Homo sapiens: one gene and its partners. The protein of the gene in region 2 interacts with the protein of the main gene of each other region in a biochemical or structural test. Each region holds a gene or a part of one and is shown on either strand. Other genes may lie near its edges. The genes, in order: USP12, RRM2 and RRM1.

Evidence for each region.
Region 1: of the proteins of RRM2 (region 2) and USP12, one has a biochemical effect on the other in vitro, tested with the Homo sapiens proteins (one study listed by BioGRID).
Region 3: the proteins of RRM2 (region 2) and RRM1 form a complex in vitro, tested with the Homo sapiens proteins (3 studies listed by BioGRID and IntAct).

The regions. Positions count from the first base shown.
Region 1 is NC_000013.11:27,168,098-27,176,121, reverse strand, and holds the start of USP12 (ubiquitin carboxyl-terminal hydrolase 12), read left to right. Parts: upstream 1-4,310; 5' UTR 4,311-4,482; coding exon 4,483-4,530; intron 4,531-6,986; exon of another isoform or gene 6,987-7,185; intron 7,186-8,024. UniProt on the Homo sapiens protein: Deubiquitinating enzyme that plays various roles in the regulation of the immune response and inflammation.
Region 2 is NC_000002.12:10,117,617-10,125,897, reverse strand, and holds the start of RRM2 (ribonucleoside-diphosphate reductase subunit M2), read right to left. Parts: upstream 3,100-8,281; coding exon 3,001-3,099; intron 2,916-3,000; coding exon 2,841-2,915; intron 2,512-2,840; coding exon 2,368-2,511; intron 2,163-2,367; coding exon 2,046-2,162; intron 1,182-2,045; coding exon 1,048-1,181; intron 1-1,047. UniProt on the Homo sapiens protein: Provides the precursors necessary for DNA synthesis. Catalyzes the biosynthesis of deoxyribonucleotides from the corresponding ribonucleotides. Inhibits Wnt signaling.
Region 3 is NC_000011.10:4,090,328-4,098,690, forward strand, and holds the start of RRM1 (ribonucleoside-diphosphate reductase large subunit), read left to right. Parts: upstream 1-4,471; 5' UTR 4,472-4,685; coding exon 4,686-4,704; intron 4,705-8,363. Other genes in the region: STIM1 (stromal interaction molecule 1 isoform 1 precursor), read left to right, coding at 955-1,471. UniProt on the Homo sapiens protein: Provides the precursors necessary for DNA synthesis. Catalyzes the biosynthesis of deoxyribonucleotides from the corresponding ribonucleotides.

The DNA of each region.
Region 1 (8,024 bases), on a different chromosome or scaffold from region 2:
TTCCCCTGTGTGTAAAATAAGTATGAAATGATGGATCTGTAAGGTCATCGTAAGGGTTACATTGGAATATGTATCTGAAGTACTAAGCAGGTGGCTGGCACATAGCAGAGGCTCATTAAATCTGGAGGAGCAAGCTGGCAGCCCGAGGGCTGTATTTGCCCACCCCAACTTTTTTTTTTTTTAAATTTTTTTTTTTTTGAGACGGAGTCTCGCTCGGTTGCCCAGGCTGGAGTGCAGTGGCGCGACCTTGGCTCACTGCAAGCTCTGCCATCCAGGTTCACGCCATTCTCCTGCCTCAGCCTCCCGAGTAGCTGGGACTACAGGCGCCCGCCACCATGCCCGGCTAATTTTTTGTATTTTTTAGTAGAGAAGGGGTTTCACCGGGTTAGCCAGGATGGTCTTGATGTCCTGACCTCGTGATCTGCCTGCCTCGGCCTCCCAAAGTGCTGGGATTACAGGCATGAGCCACTGCGCACGGCCCCCCAACTTTTAAAATGTTGACTTTGAATGTCCATTCTAAACTTTCCATTTTGTGTTGAGCGCCAGGCACTATTTGAAACATGTTTTATCGTTGTAACATAATTATTACCCTTATTTTCCAGATGAGGAAAGTGAAACAAAGAAATATCGATTTGAGTATTTTTTTTTTGTAGCTTAAACCTTCATGCAAGTCCGAAAGGAGTCGTGCCTCTCAACCTCATCCTGTCAGAATCAAAATAAAATACTTTTACAAAGCTAGTGTAGTGGAGTGGACACAGGTGTGGCTCCTGGAGCTAGGTTCAAACCTTGGTTCCATTGCTTACTAGTTAGTTGTGCAACCCTGGAAAAGTTATCTCTGTGCCTTGGTTTCCTTATCTAAACGTGGGGATAATCGTAACACCTGCTTCATTAGGTTGTTGCAAGGATTAGATAAAATGTTTACACCCCTTCTTGGACCACTCCCCATCACTTTCTTTCCCAACCCATCACAAGCAAAGCTTCACGAATCATTTATGTGAGCTGGTATAAACCCACATGCCTTCAGGGAGAAAAGAGGTAGCAGAACTATATAATAAAGTGACTTGTGTTAAACTGTTGAACAGAATGAGTAAAGGAAAATTTGAGGCAGACTGTAAGGAACTGGAGAGTGTAGGATTGTGTAACAGTATGCAAATGAAAACATTATAAAATGCTGTGCTGACTAAATGGATTAAGGTTGGACATAGTTCATTTACTTGCCTGGTCCCTGAGGCATCTGGGCATATTTTGTAGTTTGCATATTCAAGAAGGCCGAAAAGGAGTCAGTTGTACACAAACTCATCTTTTGCTAGGCACAGGGAAGCTCTTTGTAAAGCTGATTACACAGCTGTGTAAAGCTGTGTTCTAAAGCCAGATTACCCTTTCCAAGCTCAGGGTGCAAAAGTGTGGAGTTTCAGCCAAACTTATTCTCCAACTGCATTACATATGGTAAAGAACACTCAGTACAACACCTAGCACATAGATTCAAGAATGTCTCTTTTATGTTTGTGTCTCTCCAATCGACCATAGGCTGTGGAGACAAGGCATTGTGAGGCTCTGTGATTAGGTTTCATGACTTTACCTGTGAATTTAGATGGCTCCAACATCAACTAGACATGACTCCAGATAATTCTATCAGAAATCCATTTTACTTTTTAAAATTTAATTTAATTTAATTTTTGAGACGGAATCTTACTCTGTCGCCCAAGCTGGAGTGCAGTAGCATGATCTCGGCTCACTGGTTTTTCCCAGGTTCATGCGACTCTCCTGCCTCAGCCTCCCTAGTAGCTTGGATTACAGGTGCTCGCCACCATGCCCAACTAATTTTTGTAGTTTTAGTAGAGATGGGCTTTCTCCATGTTGGCCAGGTTGGTCTCAAACTCCTGACCTCAAGTGATCCGCCCGCCTTGGCCTCCCAAAGTGCTGGGATTACAACAGGCGAGAGCCACTGTGCTGTATTTTTGAGATACTGTTTCAGTCTGTCGCTCAGGCTACAGTGCAGTGGTTCAATCATGGCTCACTGCAACCTGGATATCTCGGGCTTAAGTTATCCTCTTACTTCGCCTCACAAGTAGCTGGGACTATAGGTATGCGCCACCATGCACCACGTATTTATTTTTATTTTTAGTAGAGACAAGGTCTCACTATGTTGCCCAGGCTGGTCTTGAACTCCCTGGTCTCAAGGAAGTTGGAAGCCATCCTCCTGCCTCAGCCTCCCAAAGTGCTGGGATTACAGGCCTGATCCACTGTGCCCAGCCTAGAAATTTATTTATTTATTTATTTTTGAGAGAGTCTCACTCTGTCACCCAGGCTGGGGTGCAATGGCACAATCCCAGTTCACTGCAATCTCCACCTCCAGGATCCAATCTATTCTTATGCCTCAGCCTCCTGAGTAGCTGGGATTACAGGCGTACACTGCTACGCCTGGCTAATTTTTGTATTTTAGTAGAGACGGGATTTCACCACGTTGGCCAGGCTGGTCTCCAACTCCTGACCTCAAGTGATCCACCTGCCTCGGCCTCCCAAAGTGCTGGAATTACAGGTGTGAGCCACCATACTCAGCCTAGAAATTCATTTTAGAAAGGCCTTGTTCTTATATAAACTTATATGTAAAGCCAGTGGCTTTTGTTCCTGTGACATGTTCGGATTAATGGACAAGGAGGCATATGGGTGGTTAGCGGGATGGAGGCAGGTCTAAAATTCTGGCACATCAGACCTGTTTGCTGGAATAGAACAGCAAGTGGGAAGGACAGGATGACCACAGCTATTTATCAGGACGGGCACACAGATGGGCATGGTGACACTCGGACAAGGCCCAGGTAGGCCCTAGAGGTCTAAGATGTAGAAACCCTTGTCCAAACAGGGGGTAGAAAAGAGCAAGAAAGAATTCAGGTGGGTGATGCTTGCAAGTATAGAGAGGAAAGCCCCTGGCTGGGGTATCAGGGCTCTTGGCTTCCATGGAGGCAGGCGCTTGGAGATCCAGTCCGGCTACCATGGGGCTTGGCTATATTCAATCTGCATTCCCCCCCCAAGCAAGCTTATAATGGAATCACTATGGAAACAGTATTCATGTACCAGAAGTCTATTTTTCACTTAAATTTTGTTTGAATGCTTTTTGTTTTTGAGTGCTTTGAACCCTTGAGGTGAGGCATTTCTGATTTTACAGCTCTGCCTGAATTCAGATCCTCAACCCCACTGAATTAGGGGAACCCAGAAAAGTACCCCATCACGAGTTCAATCAGAAAATATCACAAGCTTTCTAACATAATAATTTATGAAGTTATTCTACTCACTTGAACTACTTTCTCAAATAGGAAAAAATAAAGCTGAGCTGCCAGGCATGAAGAACAGGGTGCAAATATGAATTTTATAAAAGGAGAAAGAGGAACTACCCATGCCAGTAGCCAGCACTGCCTAAGGATTTCTCACAGGGCATTTTTCTTGCTTGCGGGCTTCCTGTCTCTGGTAATATCATCATCACTGCTGGCTTGAGATCCTCCCTATTTTGCAGCTCAATGTGCAGATATTTAGAAGCCTATTATAAATTTATCGCCAACAGGCCAACAGGTTTCGCTCCTCTCCTTCCCCCATTACTTATCTTTCTTCTTAATTCAAAGAGTTAAACATGTGTAATTTGTTCTTTGCCTCTTCATTTTTGTTTAATTATTTTGTCTTTTTCTAAGTTGTGTTTGACTCCGGTGATTCATCCAATATACGTAAAAAGAAACAAACCAAGTGCTTGGGACGCATACCCGGGTTATCTTAACTGTGCAGAGCAGGTTTCCTCCCACTCCGCCCGTAGTTACCCAGATCATCGCCTCCGTTTTCTGTTTAGGCAGCGGGGGCTCGCCGTCCCCTCGCCCGCGGTGGGTGTCGCAGCTGGTCCCCTCCAGGGTTCTCCCAGATCGCCGCCGCCACCCCCGCGCCTCCCCGCCGCACCCCTTCCTACGCGGGGGTCTCTGGGTCCCCGGCTCTAGGACCGCAGGGACGCGGGCAGGAGGTGGCGCCCGCCTTCGGTCCTGCCCTCTGCCGCGCGCGGGGTGGGGACGGACCGGAGTTCCCCGGCTCGCGCACAAGGGCCGCGGAGGGGTTGCCGAGGGGTGGGCGGGGCTGCGCCGCCTGGCCGCGCCGCTGCCTGGCAGGCCGGGCATTAGGGCCTCGGCGGAGCCCGCTCCCCTGTGCGCTGGGCGGGGTGGGCGGAGGGCGGCTTCGCGTGCAGGCGCGGGCCCGGAGGCAGCGGCTGCGCCCTGCGCCGGGGCGGAGCCGGGGGCGGGCCGGCGGCCGGCAGGCGGGGGCTGGGGCCCGAGGCCGGGAGTGCCTGAGCGCCGGCGGCGACGACGGCAGCGGCGGCCCAGCGGGCTCGGTGGTTGGGTCCGCGGCGGCTCGGGGTCCGCCCGCGGGCTGCGGTGCGAGCGGGCGGCCCGGCTCCCCTCCTCCCCCGCCCGCCGCCGCCGCTGTGATTGGGTGGAAGATGGCGCTGGCCGGATGGAAATCCTAATGACAGTCTCCAAATTCGCCTCCATCTGTACCATGGTAGGTGGCGGCGAGCGGGCGGCCGGGGCTGCCGGGACCTCTCGGGCGGGCGGGCGGCGCTGGACCCGCCTCTCCCAGTGGCCGCTCGCGGGGCCTAGCGCCGGGGCGGGCGGGCGGGCTGGGCGGCCCGGGCGGCCCGGGCGGGGGCGGTTGGACGGCGCGCAGGCGGGGAGCGCGGGGGTGAGCGGCCCAGGCGGCTGGGGAGGGGGCGCCGCCTGGTGGGCCAGGGCGGCGCGAGGGTAGCGGTGAGTGGGCGACCGTGCCAGACGCGGCGTCGGGCGGGCACCGGCCTCCGGGAGTCCCCGGCTGAACTGCTGGGGTCCGCTCGGGACGCGGGGACGAGGGCCGAGGCGCGCCCGGCCTGTGCCGGGGTGAGGGGTGGGCGCGCGCGAGCCAGAGCGCGGCCCCGGGCCGGGGTCGTCGGGGAGGGGGCGCGGAGCCGCGCGGGCTCCATTTCCTTCTGGTCGCGCGCCGAGCGGGAGGGGTCCCCGGGAGGGGTGGGGGTCGGCGGGCAGGAAGGAAGGGTCTCGGCCGGGGCGGGCAGCGCTCATTCCCGCCTGGGAGAGGACGGAAGTCAAGTGCAGATTTCCTCGCGCCGCTGGCTGGGCCGAGTCCCCGACCCCGCGCTGGGGGAAAGGGGCGTGTGTGAAGGTGGAAACTTTAAATAAGTACTGTTGAAATTCTCTCCATTTTCTCCTCTGAGAGGCACGAGCTCTCCCGTTTCCAGCCGTGTGTCCAGGTGGCAGTCTTGTCTCTGGGAATGCACGTTAATCTTGAAAAGCAGCATTAGCTTTCCTGTCATTTGTTTACTTCAGCCCACCAGACACATCTGTATGTGGCTGGAGCTAGGTCTGTCTGTGCGGGGACCGCCTGCCAAGGCGATGGTATTTGTTTTCCTAGGGCGTTTAAATAGACTGTAAGGGAAAAGTGCTAATGCCCGCTGGAAGTCCCGAATTAAGCAAAACGTGGGCGCGTTTAAAACTTGGTGTTTTGTGCGTGGCCAGAAGGACCACAGTTTTCCACATGATGAGACAAATTCGTTTCATTAGTTCCTCATGAGCTTATATGTAGGGATCATAATTTATGAGTCATCACCGAAAAAAGTTGTTCTTTGCAACGTGGGCCTAGTGGTTGTTATTAGAGACTTCTGAAATCTTGTGTTTCATGCCTCACTGGCCCTATTTATGCAACTGATTTCATATAGGAGATCCCCAAGAAATTTTCCATCTAAGGGTGGTACATTGTATATATTTTTCTTTAAGGAGTGGTGAATCAGATCTGAAAGATGCCTTAAAAAGCAGATTCTCTACTACACGCTGAGGAACAGTACAAAAAATGACTGAAATCAGGTGGACATAAAATCGACAGTATTAAAGAAATCATATTGAAGGATGAATCATTGAAGACTCCATTTCCCAACTGGATGATTGTTCTTTCTCACAGTTTACATTTTAGGAAAGCATTTGTATTAAATGGACTATATTAAAATGATTTTGGAGAATTGTTTGGGCTAATTATTTTTAGATACGCCAATTATTATCTTAGTCAATTTCAAAAGGAATGCGATAATTAGGTCTTTTACAGTGACAATTTTGCCACATGGCTGAGCTACACACATTGTATGGGTCATAGTTCATTGTCAAAGACTAGATTTCAGGAGTGGTGTGATACTCTTTACCGACTGTTCATTCACTCAAGTACTGTATATCAAGTATACACTTAGCAGCCACTAAGTGCTAGAGGCGACGCTGAGTACTGGGGATGCAGTATTGGTCAGGGCAGCCCCTGTTTTCTTGGTGTTTACATTCTTGCTCATGGACACAAACAGTATTCAGGTAAACAATAAATGTATGCTGTAATCAGATTAGGACAGTGAGACACAGGGATTTGCCAGGGTCACACACTTAGTAAGTGGGATTCTGATCCCAAGGATGTCAAATCAGAAGCTCTTTCTAGGGCTTCCATCCAGATACATTAATTACATGTGGGGCGTGTGTATTGTTGGCAAATACAGAAAATGCCTGGCCAAATGAGATCGTTCCAAAGGTACTATTAAAATTGGGTGTGTCTGTATTCATATTTGAATACATTCGAATGTACCCCCAAATAGTGCTGAATATCTCAAAGTAATTTGCAGTCTTATTCTTTAAAGAAAATTGCCATTTGTCCTCTGAGAATCACAAAATTGAAAAGCAAAGATACCTCTTTGGCTTTGTAGGTGCTGTTTTGCTAGGCTTGGAACGCTCCTCCCTGCCACACCCCGTATCCTTCTTGTCTGGCGAGTGTGTGTGCCTGTCTCTTAAGCAGGGAGCCTTACTTGAATAATCCTACCCCTGTCCAACCCGACCCTCCATCCCCTTCATACAGTTTCATGGCATTTTTGTAATCTCAGTAGCACTTATCATACTTACTGTGCAGTAAATTTTTCTTTGAACTCTTACTCAATTGTGAGGGCCTTGAAGGGGAAGGATTATCATTTACTTCTGCAGTTTGATCTGGAGTACCAAGTTCTGCATTCAGTATAAAAGTTTTCCAAAGTCCTTCCTGCCTCCTCCTGGTATGCCGGGTGAAGCAGGGATGATGTGGCTGTGTGTGTGTGGAATGGTGGAGAGAAGATGGGCTGGACTTAAACAGAACACTTCTCAGAATCAGCAGCTGTGAAAACATTTAGGATGAGTTGAAATTTTATTCTATAAGTACTGAAGTGTACATAATTTTTTCATTTGTCAAAATAACGTACCTGGGCAAATCTGCAATACCTTAATTGGGTTAAGTAACTGTTAAAAACAATTCTCTTCAGCTGTGTCTTATTTTAGATCACTAGTGTTGTGCTTACATGTGAAAATTAGTAAAACTTGTTTTTCATAAGTTAGTATTATAGCCTGAACCAAATGAGTGATTATGTTTAGATTGCAGTGAGTACATTTTCAAGGGTACCTCTTGAAATACCTGTTTTTAATTTGTCTATGAAATAATACATTTTCAGTATCACATAGTGTTTATTTTGCCTTTGAAGTAGTTTCAGACTTCAGGGCCTGGCACGGAGTACCTGCCTACCTGATATTTAATATTATACTTAATAAGTGTGAAATAACGGGAAAAGTGACAGAATACATGTAGAGAGGCTGTGTTTTGCAGTTGAGGTGGCTAATCCGGGTGGTCCGTCATGGGCATGCAGTAGTGGTCAGGACAGCCCCTGCTTTGGAGCTGGCACTACTTACTGTTAGCTCCATAAATGTTAGCTCTGCCTCTGATCATTATTGTCTCTTCCTGTTTGGGTTGTAGGAGTCATGGTTAGGAAGGCGTTGTTGGGAGGGGGACCAGACAACGGAGAAGTTGTTGGTGCAGGAGGTGGGTAGAGTTAGATCATGGGGTGGCACTGGCCTGGCTGCTTGCCCACCCTCGGTTACAAGGGCATGAGATTAGATCCATTAGAACATGGTGGTAATGAGGCCAAAGCTGGTAAAGGTAGGTGCTAGGAGAGTCCCACGGGC
Region 2 (8,281 bases):
CGATCGTACCCCTAATCTTTGCCTTCTTTTCTCAATTTCCACCTATAAACATGTTCAAATCTCTTTACTCCCAATGTTTCCTCAGTCCTTTCAAGTTACCACTTTTCCTCTTCATGTACTTCAAAGTCTACAACGGCTACTTTAGGTTGCAGCTTCACCACTTCCACTCCATACAAGGTTCTGGTCCCCAAAGCTGACCTTTGTTTTTTTTGCTTGGTTTTGCTTTTTGAGACGGAGTCTTGCTCTGTCACCCAGGCTGGAGCGCAAGCTCCGCCTCCCGGGTTCACGCCATTCTCCTGTCTCAGCCTCCCAAGCAGCTGGGACTACAGGCGCCCGCCACCACTTTTTTTATTTTTAGTAGAGACGGGGTTTCACCGTGTTAGCCAGGATGGTCTCGATCTCCTGACCTCATTGTCCGCCCGCTTCAGCCTCCCAAAGTGCTGGGATTACAGGCGAGAACCACCGCGCGCCACCCTAAAGCTGACCTTTGTATCTAGACTACTCCAGCAGCCCATTTCTAATCCCCCCACCTCCAATCTCCAAAACAAAACAGACCTTAAGCTACCTTTATTCAGCCAAACTCCTGCATGCCTAAATCAGTCTCAGGGTTCACTGCTGCCTCTGCCTTATGTAACTCCTACTAAGTCTTATTTGCCTATACTATACTGCAGGCTTCTTAGGAGGCAAGTCCTCCCCGTCCATCCCACTGCAGCCCCACATTCTAGCTTCTCAACAACTTTACCAAATGAGCAAAGATGGTCAGACATAGGTTTTAGTTTGTCTTACCCAACATCTAGGAATTTTTTCAAAAGAAGGTTTTACATTGGTAGACATCCAACTTTAAAAGGAGTACCTTCACAACTCTAAGTGAATAATAAAGTGCATTTAGGCCCCTTGCTAAGAGCAGACATGACCACGGGTGCTGGGAATGCCTATGACTGTCTTAGTCATTCTGGAGTCATTTTTATCCCTAGGTGAACTAAAAATGTGTAATAAATCAACAATTAGTGAGTCCTAAAAATCTTGGCATACCACTTGAATACTCACCTTTCTTTGGGATCTTTTATGTAAGTGTCAATAAGAAGACTATACATTTCAGAATGTATGTTTTCCATGGCAATTTGGAAGCCATAGAAACAGCGGGCTTCTGTAATCTGAACTTCTTGGCTAAATCGCTCCACCTAGTGGCAAAACACATCAAAGTTAAGCTTGAGAAAAAACCAACAGCAGCAACTGTCAACGGATACTGGCAGCATCGCACTCTTTGTACCATTATAAGGTTTATTTCTATATATATTTCATCCAATTTGTCACAATTCTTTGATATTTTATGTCATATGCTCAACTTACATATCAGGAAATAGATACATATAAAATAGGATTTGTGAGCGCTCGATTTCCTAATTAATTTATGTCAAGAAAGATCCATTCGCAATAAGAGATACAACCAAATTATTATTAAAACAGCAAAGCCACAAAAAGGAGGGAGCAGAGCCGGGCGTGGTGGCTCACGCCTGTAATCCCAACACTTTGGGAGGCCAAGGTGGGTGGATCACCTGAGGTCAGCAGTTCGAGACCAGCCTGGCCAACATGGTAAAACCCTGTCTCTACTAAAAATACAGATATTAGCTAGGCATGGTGGCGCACGTCTGTAATCCCAGGTACTCATGAGGCTGAGGTTGGGGAATCGCTTGAACCCAGGAGGCGGAGGTTGCAGTGAGCCAAGATCACACCACTGCACTCCAGCCTGGGCCAGAGTGAGACTCTGTCTCAAAAAAAAAAAAAAAAAGAGGGGGCAGATGTGGTGGCCACAAAGAGTCATCACATTGCTACCACTTAATATTGTCTCAGCTTCTCTAGAGTCGGGAAAATACCATAAGAAAGAACTGCAAAGTGTTACAAAACAGGAAATGCCATGTAATATAAAACCCAGCTTACACACACAGATGCACTCAGCATGGAAAAACATACAAGACGAGGAAAGCGAACTAGTTCGACCTCAGATCGTCAACGTCAAATGAATGAAAGATGTTTTGGAAACTCACCAAGTTTTCATTTACTATGCCATCGCTTGCTGCAAAGAAAGCCAGAACATGGGATATAAAATATCTCTCCTCGGGTTTCAGGGATTCCCAGTGCTGAATGTCCTTGGAGAGGTCCACCTGAGGTTCGGAAGTCACAATTTTAGCATAAAAGGAAGAGAGTAAAGCCTACAGGACTCACACTGAGCACTCAAACTTTAAGTATGCTGGCACCACTTACTATGCCCCACAGTTAGCCCCCCTTGCCAACGGGAACCTCCAAGTGCATTTATGTCTGAGGCGTGACGGTCACCCCTGCAGGGGTCTTCTGGGGTCCTCCGATTACCTCCTCGGCGGTCCAAAAGGAAGCCTCTGCCTTCTTATACATCTGCCAGATATCATGGTACTCGATGGGGAAGATGACAAAGCGGCGGGGGTTTTCTCTCAGCAGCGGCTCATCCTCCACGCCGGGGGCAGCTGCTTTAGTTTTCTGTTGGGGGAGAAAATAAAACATTTAAGTACCGGGCGAACCATATGAAACTAACGTTTTTCTGGACCAAGTCCTTTCCATTGGCGGCAATTTCACGGGGCCCGATGTGAAAACGTGGCTGTCCCGTCGCACTCCGTGGGTCGCAGCAGAGGAGCGCACGCCCGAACCGGGAAATGGGCCGAGGGGCGCGGGAGGCAGCCCTGGGGAGGGGCCGCCTAGGCGGGAAAGGAGCCGGGGCGGGAGTGTGAACAGCTGAGGAAACAATGCGGCTTTGGCGCCAAGACGCCCAAGGCCGTCCCTGGCCCCTCTGCCCCACGCCCGCCACTCACCGGCTCCGTGGGCTCCTGGAAGATCCTCCTCGCGGTCTTGCTGGCCAGGACGCGGGTCCCGCTCAGGGCCGGCGGCTGCGGGGAGACGCGTGTGAGTGAGGAGCGGCTTCGCTTTCCCTGCCTCCCTCCCCTGCCCGCAGCGCCCTCCCCGCGGGCTCACCGTGTTCTCCTTGTCGACCAAGCTGAGCCCCTTCAGCGGCGAGAGCTGCAGCTGCTGCGGGTCCGTGATGGGCGCGAGCGGGACACGGAGGGAGAGCATAGTGGAGGCGCAGCGAAGCAGAGCGAGCAGCCAGGACAGGACGGCTGGGACAGGGTGCACGGGCGACCCCTCACTCCAGCAGCCTTTAAATCTCCCGCGCCGCGCGCTCCCGGCCCTTCCCATTGGCTTTGGTGCCCCGGCCCTTCCCATTGGCTGTGCCATGCCTCCGACCCTTCCCATTGGCTGCGCCTTGCCCCTACCCAGGCTGGCCGCGGGGCCGCGCGCGATTTTCAAGCGCAGCGCGGGAGCCTCCGCCGGCGCCTTCCGGAGACCCCCGGGGACACCCCCGTGGACGCCCCCCGGGACCTCCCGGTTCCCCCCCCGGCCCGTCCGCTGGCTGGGTCGGGGGCGCCGCCGCCCAGGCCCCCACAGGTCCCGCGGGACCAGGGCCGCAGCCCCTGAGGGTCTCGGCGGCCTTGGCGCGCGCGGGCCCCGGTTCGCCCGGGAACCGTTTAGGATTGCGTGAGGAGCAGCGATTGGAGCCCGCGGGCGCGAGAGGATCCCCGGGCCGCGGCCCCGCCTCCCGAAAGCACCTCCTCCCAGCCGGGCCGCCGCCGGGCAGGGGGCTTAGCCAACGAGGTTGGTGCAAAGGCCTGGAAAACGCTCCTGGGTGCGGGGGAGGCGTTGCTGCGACCCTTTCGATCCGTGTCCCTGCGGTGGGGGTGCAAGGGCCCCGAGGCCTGACATTTTGGCGGGGTGGTCGGCGAGGACCCTACAGCCTAAAAGTTAGGGCCGCTGAGCCCCGTGGCTCGTTTTGCTGGGACAAGCGACCAGGCTTCTTACAGATTCGGTGTCCCCGTGAGTAAAATGGGACTCGTAACCGCGTGGACTGTTAATGCGGTGAGGAGAGCGTTCGTTGAGATGACTCATGTAAAATGTGCAGTCCTTTGTAAACCTTCAAACTACGGGACATGGCGAGAAGGCCCTTGGTGCAGTTTTCCACAGAAATCCTGTCTCCTGTCAGACCCCTGACCCCTATTGTCACCCTTGCCTTAAGAATTGCAAACTGTGGCTGGGCGCGGTGGCTCACGCCTGTAATCCCAGCACTTTGGGAGGCCAAGGCAGGAGGATTGTTTGAGGCCAGGAGCTGGAGACCATCCTGGGCAACATAGTGAGACCCCGCCTCTGCCATTAAAAAGAGAAGAAAAAAAGTTGTTTTAATTGCAAACTGAGCAAAAATTCCTGGGAGAAAGTTCACAGAATGATTTTAGGACTAGGAATTAATGTACTACTCATTGGGCGTCAAATATGCTGAAGAGGAGTTTGAAAACTCCACTGGTGTAGAGACTGGAACTTAGCAATAGCTTTCATTTAATTTTCTATGTGGCTTTCTGATTTGCCAGGCCCTGCAACGGGCAAAATGCCAAAAATAAAGGAAGAGAAAGAAACTTTAAGATCCAAGAAAGAAATCATTAACCTGAGAAAGCTTCAACAGCTGCGCTCAGGGCTGTTATTGAGAGAGACCCGGGACTTTTTTTTTCACAAAGCCTTTTCTAGATAAGATACTTTAAAGAGGGTGGGGTGGGACAGGTACCCTCCCCACCTAGGTCTGTTTCTCTCATTTCTTAAAAGTACTACGGACTTGTAAATCATAGTATTCTCGTGTTGCAGGAATAAGTGCCCATCACATTCCTTACACAAAGCCACAACTAAAACTTTGGTGTACCATGATTTGTTTAAAGCAACTCGCCATTCATCGCCATTTTCACCCCAAACACACTAAAGCATCCATCTCCAGGAAACTGGTATTTTTATTGATTACTTTATGGCTGATAAAGCTATTATCTAACAAAATTATAATTTATTGGTGTCATCTCATACTCAACTCAGATTTCAATTTCCCATAATCAGCGTCTAAAACCCTCGTTTCGGTTGCCCTAGGGCGCCACGTGCTTTTTTGCTCCTGTTAAACTCACTGTAACTGAAGTAGTCAGAGGTGGCTTCATTGATAGTTTAGTTCCTGGCCACGTAATTAACATAGCCATTGTAGAAGACGCCGAAAGATGCGTACGTGTTGTTAAAGGCCGGGTGAAGTCGCCATCCTCCCCTCCCGCGCTAAACCTGAGTCATCTCGGCGTGGCCCTCCTGCCCCCAGGTCCGGCAACTTTGCCCCGCTGCGGAGGAGGTGGCGGCGCCCAGGGCCACGCGGCAATGCGGGCGGTTCCGCCTCCGGGGAGGTCGGGCGGTGCAGCCACTCCCGGGAGAGCGCCCGCCGCAGGCTGCTGCTAGCCCCGGGATTCACTCCTTTTTCCCTCGGTGCTCGTTTTTTTGGTTTTATTTAAGTAAACAGACGAGGGTCTCGCTTGTTTGCCCAGGCTGGTCTCAAGCGATCCTCCCTCCGCCTCCCTAAGCGTCGGGATTCCTGGCGGAAGCCACTTGAGCGCGCGTTTTGACATCTGCATCTACTCCACCATTGGTCTGCACGGGAGGCCCCGCCCCGCCCCCCGGAAGGCTCCTCTGCATTCCCAGCCTCAGGTGCCCCGCCCCGTTTCCGCTGCGCGCTCGCCGGTTCACACGCCCCAGCCTGGGCAAGTTTGCAGGTCTCAGGCCAAGGTTAGCGCGACTTCCAAAAGGCTGTTCACCATTAGGGTGGAGAAACCGCGGCTCGGGGAGCTCAGCACTCACTGTGTACCAGACGCCGTGCCGAAGGTGGTCATAATAATAATTAAGGCTGCAGCACCCACAGCCTCTGGGCGCCTGGATCATGTGAGGCTGTTTGAGTTTTTTGTTTTTTGTTTTGAGACAGGGTCTTGCTCTGTTGCCCAGTCTGGTGGCTCCATGATAGCTCACTGCAGCCTCAACTATCCGAGCTCAAGCGATCCTCCCACCTCAGCCTCCCGAGTAGCTGGGACTCAAGGCAGGCACCACTACGCCAGGCTAATTTTTTAATTTTTTGTAGAGATGGGTTCTCGGTATGTTACCCGGGCTGGTCTTGAACCCCTGGGCTCAAGCCATCCACCCGCCTTGGCCTCCCAAAATGCTCAGATTACAGGCGTGAGCCACCGCCCCACCGGGGTTGGTATTTTTAACCCTTTTCATAGGTGATGAAATGAAGGCCTGGGAGGCAAGGAAACTGCCCAAGGTCGCACAGCACAACTGCACAGCAGAACGTTTTTAGCCTAGCTTTTTACTATGAATGTTTTCAACATACAGAATAATGGAAGGATTCCTAGTGTTCACCCACCAGCTAGGATTCAACAGCTGTTTCCATTTTGCCATATTTGCTTCATGGCAAATGTGGCAGACACCCCCTCTGTGGGTGTATGAGGCTTATGCTTTTTTATGGATCATTTGAAAGTGAGTGATAGATATCATAACCCATCACCCCTAAACGTTTCAGCTCCTAAAAATTAGGACACTCTGTTAATATCACCACAATACCACATTTATCCCTAGGAAAACTAACAATAATTCTCTAATATAACCTAATATCCAGTCCATATTCCTGTTTTTCCAATTGTTTCAAAAATGTCTCATAGTTTTTTGGATTTATTTTTTTGTGCAGTATCTAATTAATCACATGCATTGCGTTTATTATGTTGCTTTAGACTCTTAGTAAAGCTCCTCCACTTCTTTTCCCCACGACATTGACTTTGAAGTACAGGCCAGTTTTCTTGTAGAATGTCCCACATTCTACATTTGCCTAATTGTTTATTCACAGTGTCAATGAACTTGTTTTCCTGACCCCTGTACTCTACACTGGAAGTTAGGTCAAAAGGCTTTATTAGGCCCTGCTTGGAGGTTCACGCCTGTAATCCCAGCACTTTGGGAGGGTGAGGCAGGCAGATCACCTGAGGTCAGGAGTTTGAGAGCAGCCTGGTCAATATAGGGAAACCCCATCTCTACTAAAAATACAAAAATTAGCCAGACGTGGCAGCAGGCGCCTGTAATTCCCGCTACTTGGGTTCCCGCTACTTGGGAGGCTGAGGCAGGAGAATCATTTGAACCCAGGAGGCAGAGGTTTCAGTGAGCCGAGATCACACCATTGCACTCCAACCTGGGCAACAAGAATGAAATTCCGTCTCAAAAAAAAAAAAAAAAGTCCGGCGGGGGATCGTTATTAGCCTAAGGCTAAAAGTTATTGGCAAGAAGACTTCATACGTGATAATATAGCTAGGATTTGAACCCAGGTCTGACTAACTCCAGAATTCCAGACTCTCAAAAACTTTGTTTTAATATGAACTGCCAATTACGTATATTTATATATATATATATATAGATGAGGTCTCACGATATTGCCCAGGCTGGGCTCAAACTCCTGGGCTCAAGCTATCCTTCTACCTCGGCCTCCCAAAGTGCTGGGATGACAGGCATGAGCCCTTGCGCCCAGCCCAACATTCTTAATGTAGCACAGCACAGCAGCACCACAACCACAAGTCTCAGGAGCAGCCCAGTTCAACTTTGTAGTTAGTTTATGTGTCACTCACTCAGAAGTCAGCAGGAAATGGTTAAGCAGGAAGCAGGGTGGACAACCAGATGGAGCTGTTTGATGCTGATGTGAGTGTCACCACATCATTTGTGTCTAGAACATTCGCATTGGAGAGCTTCAGCCACTGAGAGGCCATTTTCAGGAGATGGTGAGGATGAGGCAGCCAGCACAGTGCAGAGCCTTTGGGATTAATGATTTTCTTCGTGCTCAGATAACCTCTAAAATGATGTTGAACAGTTATGTGCCACTTTACACACATTTAAAATAGACATTTAGCCAGGCACAGTGGCACACCCTTATACTCCCAGCTACTCCAGAGGCTGAGGAAGGAGAATTGCTTGAGACCAGGTATTTGAAACCAGCCTGGGCAACACAGCAAGACCCCTGTCTCTAAAACTAAAATAAATAAGAATTAAACTGACATTTAAACTTTTAGTCATAAATAGTTACAGGAGATGTAATCTCCATCATGTTGCAAATATTAGCACTTTAAAATGACAACTGGCCGGCATGGTGGCTCACACCTGTAATCCTAGCACTTTGGGAGGCTGAGGTGGGAGGATGGCTTGAGCCCAGAAGTTCAACACCAGCCTAGGCAACATAGACCTTGTCTCTGTGAAAAATAAAAAAGTAGCTGATTGTGGTGGCACGCATCTCTGGTCCCAGCTGTTTAGGAGGCTGAGGCAGGAGTATTGCTTGAGCCCAGGAGGTTGAAGCAGCAGTGAGCCGTGATCACGCCACTGCATTCCAACC
Region 3 (8,363 bases), on a different chromosome or scaffold from region 2:
GACCTCTTCTGAACCACTGCTCTTTAAAGGCCAACATCCTGTCTTTCTATGCCTCCCTACATTCTCCGTCAGCAGAGTTCTGAAAGAGACCCCACCCTTCCTGCCGCACCACAGACTTTGGTTTGAACTCTGCAATACCTATCTATGACCTCCTTTGAATCCTATGAGATGGTTAGAAGAGGCAGCATCCTGGCCTTTTGGGGTGGGTGAAGGATTATTTGCAAGGCTGTTCTAACCTTCTCATCTCCAGCCTGGGTCAGGTCCACTGACTGCATGTGCCCTGTTCCTTGGGGCCTGGCCCAGACTGGATAATATCCTAAGGTGTGACAGGAGTAAGTGGGGAAGGAAGGCATGGAAAATGGTGACTCGGAGCAGGCTGTAGGTTCTGTGTTAGCTTGAGTCCCAGGAAATACAGCCAGCTATGAGAAGGCAGAGATTTTATTGAGGATGCCGCCTGTGGAATTTAAGCCTATGGCTGCACCAGTTCAGAGCCAGAGCATTCACCACTGGTGGGGCCCAGGTATTGGAAAACCATTTGCCAGACAGATGATGGTATGATGACATTTGTTTTTGTTTCTTATCTGTTTCTTCCCTCCCTATCACTTTTCCCTTTCTTGTCTTTCTCTCTTGGCCCTTCTTTCTACCTGCTTATCCTTTTGCTTTTCTTCCTCTACAATTCTACTCTCCTTTTCCTGTCTCTTTTCCAATCTATCCTCATTCCCTCCTCCTGCCTCCTCTCTTATCCTATACTTATGGCTGCTCAACTTCTGTCTATTCCTCTTTCCTCTCTCCTTCCCACCTGCCTGTTCATCCTATTTCTCTCTCCTGCCGCTCTATCCCCATTTTCCTACCCTGTCCTTGTCTTCTCGTGTTGTCCCTCTCTCCTCTTCGCCTTTCCCCTATCACCTCATCCAATATATGTCCCTTTCTTCCTCTCTGCCCCATGTCTTGCAGGGATTTGACCCATTCCGATTCGGAGTCCTCCCTCCACATGAGTGACCGCCAGCGTGTGGCCCCCAAACCTCCTCAGATGAGCCGTGCTGCAGACGAGGCTCTCAATGCCATGACTTCCAATGGCAGCCACCGGCTGATCGAGGGGGTCCACCCAGGGTCTCTGGTGGAGAAACTGCCTGACAGCCCTGCCCTGGCCAAGAAGGCATTACTGGCGCTGAACCATGGGCTGGACAAGGCCCACAGCCTGATGGAGCTGAGCCCCTCAGCCCCACCTGGTGGCTCTCCACATTTGGATTCTTCCCGTTCTCACAGCCCCAGCTCCCCAGACCCAGACACACCATCTCCAGTTGGGGACAGCCGAGCCCTGCAAGCCAGCCGAAACACACGCATTCCCCACCTGGCTGGCAAGAAGGCTGTGGCTGAGGAGGATAATGGCTCTATTGGCGAGGAAACAGACTCCAGCCCAGGCCGGAAGAAGTTTCCCCTCAAAATCTTTAAGAAGCCTCTTAAGAAGTAGGCAGGATGGGGTGGCAGTAAAGGGACAGCTTGTCCTTCCCTGGGTGTTCTGTCTCTCCTTCCCTCCCTTCCTTCAAGATAACTGGCCCCAAGAGTGGGGCATGGGAAGGGCTGGTCCAGGGGTCTGGGCACTGTACATACCTGCCCCCTCATCCTTGGGTCCTTCATTATTATTTATTAACTGACCACCATGGCCTGCCTGCCCTGCCTCCGTCCCAACCATGGGCTGCTGCTGTCACTCCCTCTCCACTTCAGTGCATGTCTTAGTTGCTGTTCCCTCAGCTCCCAGCTCCACCTCTGGGGTTCAGCTTCTGTCTCTGCTGTCCCAGTTTTGAGGTTTGGTTTCTTGTTTCTGTCTCTTGCTTTCGGGCTCCTCCCTCCCACCACTCCCCAACTTCCCCTAGCAGTTGCAGGGAAGATAGGACGAGTAGCTTCTGACATGTGTGCCTCAGATCTGTTCCACCCCACTCACAGTGGTTCTGTTTGCTCCAGACTGGGGCTAGGGCCTAATCTTTGAAGTTTGTTCTTTGGTATTGATGTGGGTCAGAAGGAGCCTCATCCTAATCTCACTCAGGCCTCCAGGGATCCATGGGGGAGTGAAACCAATTCTCAGAGAACAACCCACCAGAGACTTTTAAAGAGAGGCCAGGCTTGGGAATGGGTTGGGAGAGGCATCTGTTCATTGGAGCATGAGTGGATGCCAGAACTGTAGGTTATAAGGCAGTCACTTTTTCTCTCTACTCCCACCCACACCTGCCTCCCTCTTACCCCTGCTCCCCCACACTGCAGGAGGATTTGTCTCTAAGAGGTGCTGCCCCAAAGCTCCCCAAGCATCAATACTCCTAGGGCTCAGGACAAGTGGCTCCCCTGGCCAGGAGAGCCACAGCCATGATACAGGGCTCTTATGGAGCCCTGGAGTTGTTGGGCAAGGATGCTGTCATTTTTTGAACCAAAAGACAAACAGGTTAAAAGGAAAAAAAGTAATCTGAATTTCCCAAGTGCCTACGCTGCATATTCCCCTTGTTAGATCCCATTTTCATGTTACTTTGTAGCCTTGGCCAGAGGCTCAAAAAGGACACAACCAGTTTGGGGAAGGGGTGGCTAAGGAAGATGGTATAGGTGAAGGCGGCTGTGTGACCACTTTCCCCCACCCTTCCCACCCTCTAGACAACTCTCTCCCTTACCTGTTTTTGCTATGGCTGTAAAGGTATTTTTCCTCTGCCCCACTCCCTGCCATACCTTTATCCTGGGATCCTATTTTGGGCCTGGGGTGGGTATACCTGGGGCTGGTCTTAGGAGGGTGCTAGGCTGCAGACTGCCTTGTACTCCCTGGACACCCTCAAATGGGGTTTTCTGTGTTATTTCATAAAATTCTTTGAAGTCCAATAAAGCATGTAGGAGATTTTAACCACTGCTGGCTTTGACTCTCATTGTGTTCTCTGTGCTGTGGCATGATGGGATAAAGAGACAATCTTTCCTTTGCCCAGGGAAAATGAAACTTGAATGCACATGCCCAGAAGCTCTGTGGGCAGGGTTACCAGATAAATGCAGGATGACCAGTTAAATGTGAATTTCAGATAAACAGTTTTTAAAGTATAATTTTCTCTCATGCAGTATCTGGGACACATTTTTATTTGCTAAATTGGGAAACCCTATGTCTGGGTAAACTTGACCCTATCTATCCTATAACTTCACTTACGACTTTTAAAAAACATATCTATTTAATTTTTCTTTCTTTTTTTTTGTTTTTTTTGAGACGGCGTCTCACTCTCTTGCCTAGGCTAGGGTGCAATGGCGCGATCTTGGCTCACTGCAACCTCTGCCTCCAGCGTTCAAGCGATTCTTCTGCCTCAGCCTCCTGAGTAGCTGGGATTACAGGCGCGTGCTACCATGCCTGGCTACTTTTTGTATTTTTAGCAGCGGGGGGGTTTCACCACGTTGGTTAGGCTGGTCTCGAACTCCTGACCTCGTGATCTGCCCGCCTTGGCCTCCCATAGTGCTGGGATTACAGGAGTGAAGCACCGCGCTGGCCTACTTTTTCTATTTTTTGTAGAAATGGGGTCTCACTATGTTGCCCAGGCTTATCTCAACACCTGGCCTCACATGATGCTCCCGCCTTAGCCTCCCAAAATGCTGCAATTACAGGCTCACTTACGACTTTCCATGATTTTTGAAATTACTTCACAGGGAGCCTGGGCAGCTTCTGGAGGGCAGTGAGAAACCAACGAAAAGGCTTTAGGGAAAAGATGCCACAGATGAAATTTCATAAAGATCGCTTTGGGTAGCCCAAATCAGAAGCTTCTACACCAGCCTTACATATTACGGTTCTCATCTATTCTTATTCTCCACTCTAAGTCACCAAGTCCATCCTACCTCCACAAGGCAAATACCCTGTCTCTGCCACCATCCACTGAAGAACCCTAAAAGCAAATGGGTACTGACCCTGCCCTGCTTAAAATTCTCTCAGGGCTCTGATTTGCGTCAGGATAAAATCCAAACGCCATCGGCCTTGCGCGGTTTTCTTCCAGTTCCAGAGTGTCAGTCCTCTGGCCGATCTAAAAGCCCTGGGGCTCCAAGCTGCCCACGGCTGTGGAGCCTGGGCTGGAGCCCACAGCGGACGGCAGTGTTAGTATTATTATAATAAATGTCAGAGCAAGAAAAACGTTCCCGCCGGTTAGGTTTTGTTATTTCAAAAATAAATTAACCGCCTTTCCTCCGGCGGAGACGCGCAGGTGAGAGGGCGGCGCCTGACCCAGCGGGCTCTAGGTGCTACGCCAGGGCCCCGAGGGTCCCGAACTCGGCTTGCCCACACAAAACATGGTAGCAGGAGAGCAGCATTTCCGCCGGGCATGTCCATATCCAATGGGGCCCATGGGAGAGGCGTAGTCTTCTGGGTCTTGCCCAGACTCAACATGGCGGCTACACGTCGCCTGTCAGTCTGTGAAGCCTACCCCGGGCGTGGGCCGCAGCGTCGAGTAACGTCATTCGAACCCCGTCGCGCCCCTTTGTGCGTCACGGGTGGCGGGCGCGGGAAGGGGATTTGGATTGTTGCGCCTCTGCTCTGAAGAAAGTGCTGTCTGGCTCCAACTCCAGTTCTTTCCCCTGAGCAGCGCCTGGAACCTAACCCTTCCCACTCTGTCACCTTCTCGATCCCGCCGGCGCTTTAGAGCCGCAGTCCAGTCTTGGATCCTTCAGAGCCTCAGCCACTAGCTGCGATGCATGTGATCAAGCGAGGTGAGGGGGGGACGAGGTGGGCGAGAAGGAAGGTGAGGGGATGCGGGCTGCCGCCGCCGGAGCTGATGCCCAGACCGCCCGCCCGCCTTCGCTGCTTCCCGCCTTTCCCGCATTTCCCGCCGCGGCCTTCCGCCCTGTCAGCCCGCTCGGCCTTCTGTCTTCAGTCAGCCTGCCCCGAACCTCCTTCGGGCCTTCAGGCTGCGCCCCCTCGGCTTTGTCATCCTGCCGCCTTTCAAAAGGATAACACTTACCCCGTATCGAGTAGTGACTGCGTACGCCGAGCACTTGCCAGGCACTATTTTATTCCTCCCTGCAAGCCTCTGAGAGATGATTAGCTTATTACAGATGAGGAAACTGACGCTCAGAGCGAGGTGTCGCCGACTGACCCAAAGTCACCCATAGGTGACAATACGGTTTGATTTGAAAACCGTGGGGTTGGTGAGCTGTCTTAGGCACAGGGTCGGGGGGCAGCTAGGAAAGAAGGAGGGGGCCTCTCTACCCTCCGTAGGCACTTGTCAGTTTACTGATCTCTTTTGTGGGGTGAGGATAGGAGTGTGGCGTGGAAAAAACAGATCCCAGACAGACAGCACCCTCGAGTTCCTTTCCCTTCATGGGAAGAGATGCTGAATCAGAGAAGGGTGGCTGAGACATCTTCTGACAAGATGGGGACTGGGAAGAGTCAGGAACTCGTATTCTTTCTCAACAGTTCTTTTTCATTAGACTTGCCAAGTGCCCGCTTTGTGCCCAGCCCTTTGCTTGGCTTTGTGAGATTGTAGGAGGAGACAGTCCCTGCCTTGGGAACAGGCTTCATCGGGTTGGAAAAACAAGAGCAACATACTTTTAACAACCGCATGAGATACGTATGAACAAGTTTTGAGTTGAACCTACTTGCCTTTGTTAAAGCAATACAATGATTTCAAAATTGTAGGCACTTAGTAAATACTGGTTAATCGACTGGTTGTTTCTATTTTGTCCTCTAGGCTGTGAACATTTCAAAGATGGAGACTTGTTTGAGACAGAGTCTTGCTCTGTCACCCAGGATGGAATGCAGTGGTGTAATCATAGCTTACTGTAACCTTGAAGTCCTGGGCTCAAGCGATGCTCTTGCCTCAGCCTCTCAAGTAGCTGGGACTATAGGCATGCACCACCATGAGTGGCTAATTTTTAAAAATTTCTGGTAGTAAAGGAGTCTTGCTGTGTTTCCCAGTCTGGCCTTGAATTCCTGGCCTCAAACCATCCTCCCTTCCTTGGCTTCCCAAAGTGCTGGGAATACAAGCAAGATGGAGACTTTTCTGTTCACGTTTAGCACAGGACCTGACATGAACAGATTCTTAAAGAATGAATGAAAATAGTTGTATCAAAATGTAGGACACGATGAATGCTGTGAATAAGCAGGTAGTTGATTTGGTTTAACTACAGCCAATGTCCAGATTGGTTTAACTACAGACAAGAGTTGGAAAGGTGGACAGTAGTGGCCTTTCTTGTTTTTGGTATCTTGAGAACATCATTCTGTGAATTTTCCTAGCTCACATTTTAGCTGACCAAAGAGCAAAATAACATAGTGCACTTTTATTGATCCATTCATAAGAGTGAGAGCTGAGCATCTATTTTTGTATTTTTATTTTTTTACATTATTATTTATTTGTATTTTTTTAGAGAAGGAGTCTCGCTATGTTGCCCAGGCTTGTCTTGAACTCCTGGGCTCAAGCATTCTTCCCACTTCAGCCTCCCAAAGTGCTTGGATTACAGTGCTGGGAGCCACCGCACCTGGCTTGAGCATCTATTTTTTAAATCTTTAGATATGGGAGAGATGTTTAGGATGGTCTATGATAAGTCAGTAACAAAGATGAATTGAAAATGTATGGACTTAGATGACCAGAATGGGTAAAATTCAACCCTGTGTTGAATTTTGAACTTTTAGAGTCTACTTCTAAATACTTTCGTTTAAAAAGTGCTACCTTGGCCTGGCGTGGCAGGGCATGGTGGCTCACGCCTGTAATCCCAGCACTTTGGGAGGCTGAGGTGGGTGGATCATTTGAGGTGTGGAGTTTGAGACCAGCTGGGCCAACATGGTGGAACCCCGTCTCTACTAAAAACACAAAAGTTAGCCGGACGGTAGTGGTTTGCACCTGTAATCCCAGCTACTCAGGAGGCTGAGGCAGGAGAATCGCTTGAGCCTGGGAGGCAGAGGTTGCTGAAATCGTGCCATTGCACTCCAGTCTAGGCGACAGAGTGACACTCTGTCTCAAAAAAAAAAAAAAAAAAAAAAACCACAAAGTGCTAGCTATAACTAGCTCTAAAAAGCAGAGCTTATTTTCTCATTCCTTCATAGAGCACAATTTGATCCAGATGGTTCATGCTGTAGATTCTGCCATTGTAGCATTCAGCAAGACTTAATATACAACATGTACTTAGATTTGTTTGTTTCTTTTTTTTTTTATATTTCTATGTTTCTATATTTTAATGTTTTTTAATATGCATAGGGTTTTTGGTTTTCTGGACTTTTTTTGTACCCCCTTATTTTTGGCATGTCAGTGGAATAGCAGACTAACTCCTACAGTTTTTGTTAATTTTCTTTGAGATGGGGTCTTGCTCTGTCATCCAGGCTGGAGTGCAGTGGTGTGATCTCAGCTCACTGCAGTGTCTGCCTCCTGGGTTCAAGAGATTCTCCTGCCTCAGCCTCCTCAGTAGCTGGGACTACAGATGTGTGCCACCACGCCTGGCTAGTTTTTGTTATTTTTAATAACAAGGGCAACTGGAAGTTGACTTTGAAGTACCTACTGAATATGCTAATGTCTTGCTAAACACTGTGAGGGCAGTAATGGAGAAGGCAGCTCTATCTTCAAAGAACTTAAAATTGTTAGGGATTTAGGAACAATCCATATGAAAATTATTAGATAGAAGAGAATAGTAGATGAGTTTTTTTCATCTGCTATCTTGAGCTATTTTTCCTAATGGGAGAGTATCATTCCTCAAGGAGATTATGGTTAAAAAAATAAACATTGAGAACCATTGCAGTAAATGACAAAGTAGCTAACTGAGTTGTAAACTGTTTTGGAATTTAGTGTAGTATTTTCAAAACTTTGGATTGTAACTCACAGTAAAAAACAAAACATTTTACAGACATGTGTATATATGTGGATACACATAAAATGATACAAAAGTTTACGAAATAATGTCTTTGAAAGCATCCATTTGCACTCTAATCTTTCTTTTATTCCAGATTCTTTCCCTATCCCTGCCTCCCTCCCTCCCTTCCTTCCTCCCTTTCTTCCTCCCTCCCTTCCTTCCCTCCCTCCTTGCTTCCTTCCTTCCTTTCTCCCTCCCTTCTTTCCTGCCCTCCTCCCTCCCTCCCCTCCCTCTCCCCCTCCCTCCGTCCCTTCCTCCTTCCTTCCTTCCTTCCTTCCTATTCCATTCACAGCCTGCTAATATTATTTTACAACTCTGTGGATACCGTGCTGTTCACCGGGATTGCAGTGATGAGTAGGCAGACATGGTTCCAGCTTCCAAAGATCCTACAATCAATTGAGAAAGATAGACAAATAAAGAAGTAATATGATAAAATATGATAAATACTCTGATAGGTAAAGTATAGGCAGTAGAGGCCATTCATTCAGTTATTCATAAAGCATTTATTCAGCACCTCTTTGTGCTAGGAA